2 separate regions of the Homo sapiens genome follow, and region 1 is linked to region 2. The links come from fine-mapping of genetic effects on gene expression. Tissue or cell type: tibial nerve. Region 2 holds a variant in brackets; the other region holds the start of a gene. All regions are shown on one strand. Distances are from middle to middle.

Region 1 (2,746 bases), 150 kb before region 2:
TAGTCCCAGCTATGCAGGAGGCTGAGGCAGGAGAATCGCTTGAACTTGGGAGGCAGAGGTTGCAGTGAGCTGAAATTGCACCACTGCCCTCCAGCCTGGGCAATAGAGCAAGATCCTGACTCAAAAAAAAAAAAAAAACTCCAGCGTCAAAAATAAAATAAAATGAGAAGTAGGAGAAATTATTAGAGATTCTGGACCTTTTAGGGCATTTTTCCCTAATATCCACTCAGGCCGTGCCCAGATGGCCTTGCACCTTCAGCTGTGGCATCAAACAAAACTGGGAATTGCAGCTTTACCACTTATCTCGCTGCATAAGCTTCCACAAGCAAGTTACTTACTGTTTGTGCTTTTAGGTTCTTAATATGTAAAACAATGTTTTACATTAAAAATTAAATGAAATAGCTCCTGAAAAGCCCAGTCACATTGTCAGAGCTCAGTAAAAATGTGTTCCCTTATTCTAGTACTGGGGCAGAACACCTGCAGGTTTGTAGGTGGGGAGACAGTGGACAGAGTGGCTGGGTGATGAAGTGGGGCTCTAGAGGATGAGCAGAGATTGCCTCTGAGCCGACACCCTGGCCCTGTCAGTTCCCGTCCTCACATGATGGACATGAAGGGAACACGAATGAAGCAGATGATGATACGGTTAAGTAAATACCACCTGGGACCAGAGAGAGCCCTTCTCAAGGAGTCGCCAGCCCAGAGTCGGCCCTCTTCTGAGCTGGCCGGCTGGAGTCAATCTGCTTTGGACAACACAGCTTCAGATGGAGATAATACTGAGGCCAATGATCCTTGAAGACAAAATAATCTCTGGGCTTCTTTCTGCTCTGATTATAATGTTGCAATTATACTGAGCAGATGCTGATAGGAATTTGGTCAAATCCATCCCGTCTTCCATCTAACTTATTTTAGTGCCTGGTGGATTTCTGTCCAGCTCCACGGGCTGTGGCAATGCCGGGGCTGGCTGGAAGTGTGGAAGGGGCTGGCTGGAAGTGTGGAAGAGGCTGCCCGGGCTCCGGCATCAAGAGGTTTTCTCCGGTGGGGAGGAGTGCGCGATCTGATCCTTGGAGCGCTTGCAACTGTAGCCCTCCCCCAGGGCTCTGCGCTGATCTCCAGGGTCATCATCATAGTAACAGTAAGAACTTCATTTTATAGCATTTTTCAATCTGTAAGACAACGTCGTGTCCTTTATACCGTTGAAATTTCAATTTCACGACTACTCAGATGTTACGCGACTTGCTCAGTATCCAACACTTGGTTCCTTCACTGGCTCCCGGAGACCTGGGTGCTGAAGCCACTGCAAGGAGGTGTGTGCTCGAACACACAGCGAACACCGACTGCGTGGTTAGCAGGATTCGCTGGGGAAGAGGCCTCAGGAGAGTGCTGGAATTTCCAACCTTCGAGGTGCTAGTAACGTGTGTCGAGGAAGGGGTTGGAGAAGGGGAGAAAATGAAAAGAAGGGGAGAAAATGAAAAGATGGGGAGGAGGAGAAATGGTTTGGGTTTGGTTTTGGCTTGAGCCTCACCCAAGCGTCCCACGCCGCAGCTCCGCGGCCTCCTGGGGGCGCCCGCTCGCGTTGCCACGGCGCTCGCGCGGAGCCGCAGCCCGCCCAGCCAGCAGCGCGCGCTCCTGCAGCCCCGGCGGAGTCCCGGCGGGGAGCGCCCGCGTAGGCAGGCACCCGGGGCAGCCCTCCGTCCTCGCCGCGCGGCCTGAGAACCCCTGGGCCCTGGGCGAGGGGGCTGGGCTGTGCAGCCCCCGAGGCTAACTGGGCGGGATCGCAGCTGCAGGGGTTGTGCGAGCAGCCACGGCGGCACCTGTGCCCTGCGGGCACCCACCCTGCCCCTGCCGAGGCAGGCGCCCACCGCCGGCGGTGATGCGGCTGTGAAGCCCTAGTCGGTGAGTACCCTCCAGTCCCCCTGTGGGCGAGCGAATCTAAATGACAAGGTTATGTGTTTTGCTGGATGTCTTCTAAGAATCATTTATTTAGATTGCTTATGGTGGGGAAGCGTTTCCTTTGTGACATCTTTGTGTTTCTCGGATCTATTTCGTTTCCCTCTAAACGCAGCCCTCTCTCCCCTAGTGGGAAAGACACCCAGTATCCGTGTCTCGATCATCGCACGACACCCACCAGTGCGGATGCCACGTACCACACACTCCCCAGAGCCTGCCAGAGAGCAGGGCTGTCTCCCAGCCACGTCCACCCCATTTTCATTGTGCTTCTATCCCGCAGGCAAAGGAAGAGCGTACCCAGGCACCCCCGAGGTAGGCCAGGTGTCAGGACAGCCAGCAGGCCCTTGGCGAAGCCGGGTCCGCTCTGGCTAGCTCAGCGCGGTGAACCCATGAGCTCATTAGGAGCAGCGGCTGCTTTGCGCGGGGAACGCCGGTTTCCCTGCGGCAGAGGGGCCCTGCACCCGCCCGCGGCGCGCGGTGGTGGCCCAGGACCAGTGGCGCACACGCTTGCGCTCCCAGGCTGCAGGGCGCGCTGCGCCGGCGCAGCTCCCGGGCGTGTGCAACAAAAGGACGGCCAAGTTCATTCCCTCCTGGAAGCAGAGGGCGGGGCCGCATGACTTCTGGAGGCTGCATGTGTCTTAGAATCAAATGGTTATGACTCCATAGCAAAATGCTTTCTGTGTGTCAAGTCCTCTCCGTGCCTGCCAACCCCTTCCCTCCTCTCTCCTCCCTAAAATGCTTTCTTATTGGTCTGGCACTGTGATCAACTATTTAGAATTTTCATTGTAAAGAAATGAAA
Region 2 (2,500 bases):
CTTCTGGCTCCTCGGATGAGCAAGGCCATGTCCCTACCTGCAGGTCTTTACCCTTTCACATATACCTTCCCGTCCATTCGCCAAAAACACATTCACTTCTCCCTTTAGTAAATTATGCTTTGGCCCGATGCTCCTATTCAGGAACCACTTCCCACTCTGGAGTTTCCTCTGGACTGCTGTCTTAGTCATTTATTCTAGCCAATTCCCACCTCCCCACCTTTGCTTTCTAAAATGTCTTGTTGTGGAATGTGTCACCCTTTTAACCTGCCTCTCCTTCTAAACCTTCCATTTGATGCCTCTGATCTTATGCCACTGTGTGAAAGAAATATGCTTGTTCCACCTTTGTACTAACCATAGTTCTTCATTGATCCGTGTAGCTGGCCTCGTCGGAGGCCAGTGGGGGGTGGAATGGCTGTGCAGAAAGTCGGCCTTGTGTCATGGGATTTGATACAGATGGGATTATGGTTACCTGGGGATGGGGTTAGTAGGGGAAGGCGATATGTGTTGAACTCTGCATTTCTGCCCCTGAATTTCCCACTGTCGTTTAGTAGGTCCAAATAGAGCGATATGCATGGAGCTTAAGTTTCTACTTTGTTGCCAACAGACATACAGGGATCTTGATGCTGACAACCGTGGCAAGCAGAGCCCCCACCATGAGAGGGTAAAAGAGCATGAACCCGTGGCATGGGATGCTGAGAGCCAAGCACACGGGGCACGCTGTGGTGGTGGGGCAGCGGGAAGGGATATGGGGGACGGCCCCCTCCCCTTGCTTTTTGCACGCTCTTGTCACCCAGCCAAGAGCCAGAATTCTTTTTGCTAGCAGTGTTGACCAATGCAAATAGCATTCACTGTAAAGCAGTCACCCATCTGGCATTCAGATGGGATGCTGATCCTAAATGTGCGTATTGTAAAGGGCCTTAATGACTTCCCATTTCTGCCCACTGTTCCCCTTCCAAGACCATACTATTTCTACCCCCAAACTATGTGCCAGTGGTAGAGTAGTAGCATTGGACTGTCAGATACAACTTCTTAGGGAGAGGGTCTAAATCAGTATTCAAGTGGCATTCAGCAGTCACGGATCTTGAAGTGGAAATCCTAAGAGAGCCAAAGCTCTTACCAGCGTGAGGATTTTTCCAGTGGGATGAGAATGAGGGGGAGAAAGGTAGGTGATGGCAAAATGGGGCTGTACCCGTGGAAAGCTTTAGTCTTTTCTGAAACACTGAGGGGAGAAATTACTGATTGCAGCTGGCCATCGTACAATGTGAGGGATAGCCGAGATGCCCAGTTAAAGAAGCCGGCTTACTTTATGAAACTTTTGTTCTTGTTATTCCTACCCTTAAAGATCTCCAAGTGGGTACAGCTCTGCAGCTAGCGGGAAGAATCATCTCTAGTTGTTAATCTCACAAAAGCCATTTTGGTTTCTAACTCCCTTCTGCCTTTGCTCTCTGAGAAATGCAGTTATGGCCAAGCAGTAAATTAGGTTACCCCTCGGACCC[G/A]ATAGGAGCTAATCATAGTGCCATCTTCCTGCGCCCTCTCACCAGGCTAGCAGCGGGCAATGTGTGTGCTGCCTGAACCTGGTGCTGGGTCGGAGAGTGGAGACTGGGCTGGAGGTGGGGGTCTTTCCCACCCCCTTTCCATGGCCTCGCCCCACGGTGCTCACCCTTTCTGGGGCTGCTCTCCCACGGCGCTGTGTGCCCAGCCTCTTTCTCTCTTCTTCCCAGGCTGTGTCCCCTCAAAAAGGAAAGCAGCCCTTTTCACTGAGCAGGGCAGTGCCCTCCATTTTGCAGATTGTGTATTTAATGAGATGCTGATAATGTTTAATGAAACAGCGCCTAAAAGAAGAAGGGAGGGGAAGGCCGGGTGCGGTGGCTCAGGCCTGTAATCCCAGCACTTTGGGAGGCCGAGGCAGGCAGATCACGAGGTCAGGAGATCGAGACCATCCTGGCTAACACAGTGAAAACCTGTCTCTACTGAAAATACAAAAAAATTAGCCAGGCATGGTGGCGGGTGCCTGTAGTCTCCGCCACTGGGGAGGCTGAGGCAGGAGAATGGCATCAACCCAGGAGGCAGAGCTTGCAGTGAGCCAAGATCGCGCCACTGCACTCCAGCCTGGGCGACAGAGCCAGGGCGACAGAATCAGACTCGGTCTCAAAAAAAAGAAGAAGGGAGGGGAGCATGTTGAATAGGAGAGATTGGCAGTGAGAAACAATTTGAAGTTTAGGGCTGTGGTGCAGAGAGGGGATGAGTTAGGGTTTTTGAGCTCAGGAGGCAATAAGGCTTGCAGAGATGTTTCTCTCTTTTTCCCTCTGAACTGGTTTCTGCACTCCTCAGTGCAGGGCTCCAGGCTGGATACTTTTGAGGACACTACTTAAGTTCTTTTCTTGGACTCTGCTGCCATCCTCCATAACCTCCCTAACCTCCATAACTTCCCTAACCTCCCTAACCTCCATAACCTCCCTCACCTCCATAACCTCCCTCACCTCCCTAACCTCCCTAACCT

Direction of the effects. Positions count from the first base shown, and alleles are read on the strand shown. Sizes are in standard deviations (SD) of each study's normalised expression.
For the expression in tibial nerve of the gene that starts at base 1,613 in region 1, A is the high allele of the variant in region 2 and G is the other (moderate effect, 0.59 SD a copy in GTEx).

What was found. PIP is the estimated chance that this variant, and not a neighbour inherited with it, causes the effect.
Region 1: it holds the start of MICAL3, and the variant in region 2 is fine-mapped to the expression of MICAL3 in tibial nerve (GTEx, PIP 0.92).

Annotation. Positions count from the first base shown.
Region 1 is chr22:18,023,428-18,026,173 of GRCh38, reverse strand. MICAL3 (microtubule associated monooxygenase, calponin and LIM domain containing 3) reads left to right here and starts at 1,613. Exons shown (of 32, transcript NM_015241.3): 1 at 1,613-1,893. RefSeq lists a silencer at 1,476-1,885.
Region 2 is chr22:17,877,507-17,880,006 of GRCh38, reverse strand. All of the region lies in intron 16 of MICAL3 (microtubule associated monooxygenase, calponin and LIM domain containing 3), which reads left to right. Among named protein-coding and RNA genes, the nearest start is that of LINC00528, 100 kb to the right of the region's middle. The variant G/A (reference allele first, on the strand shown) is at 1,497.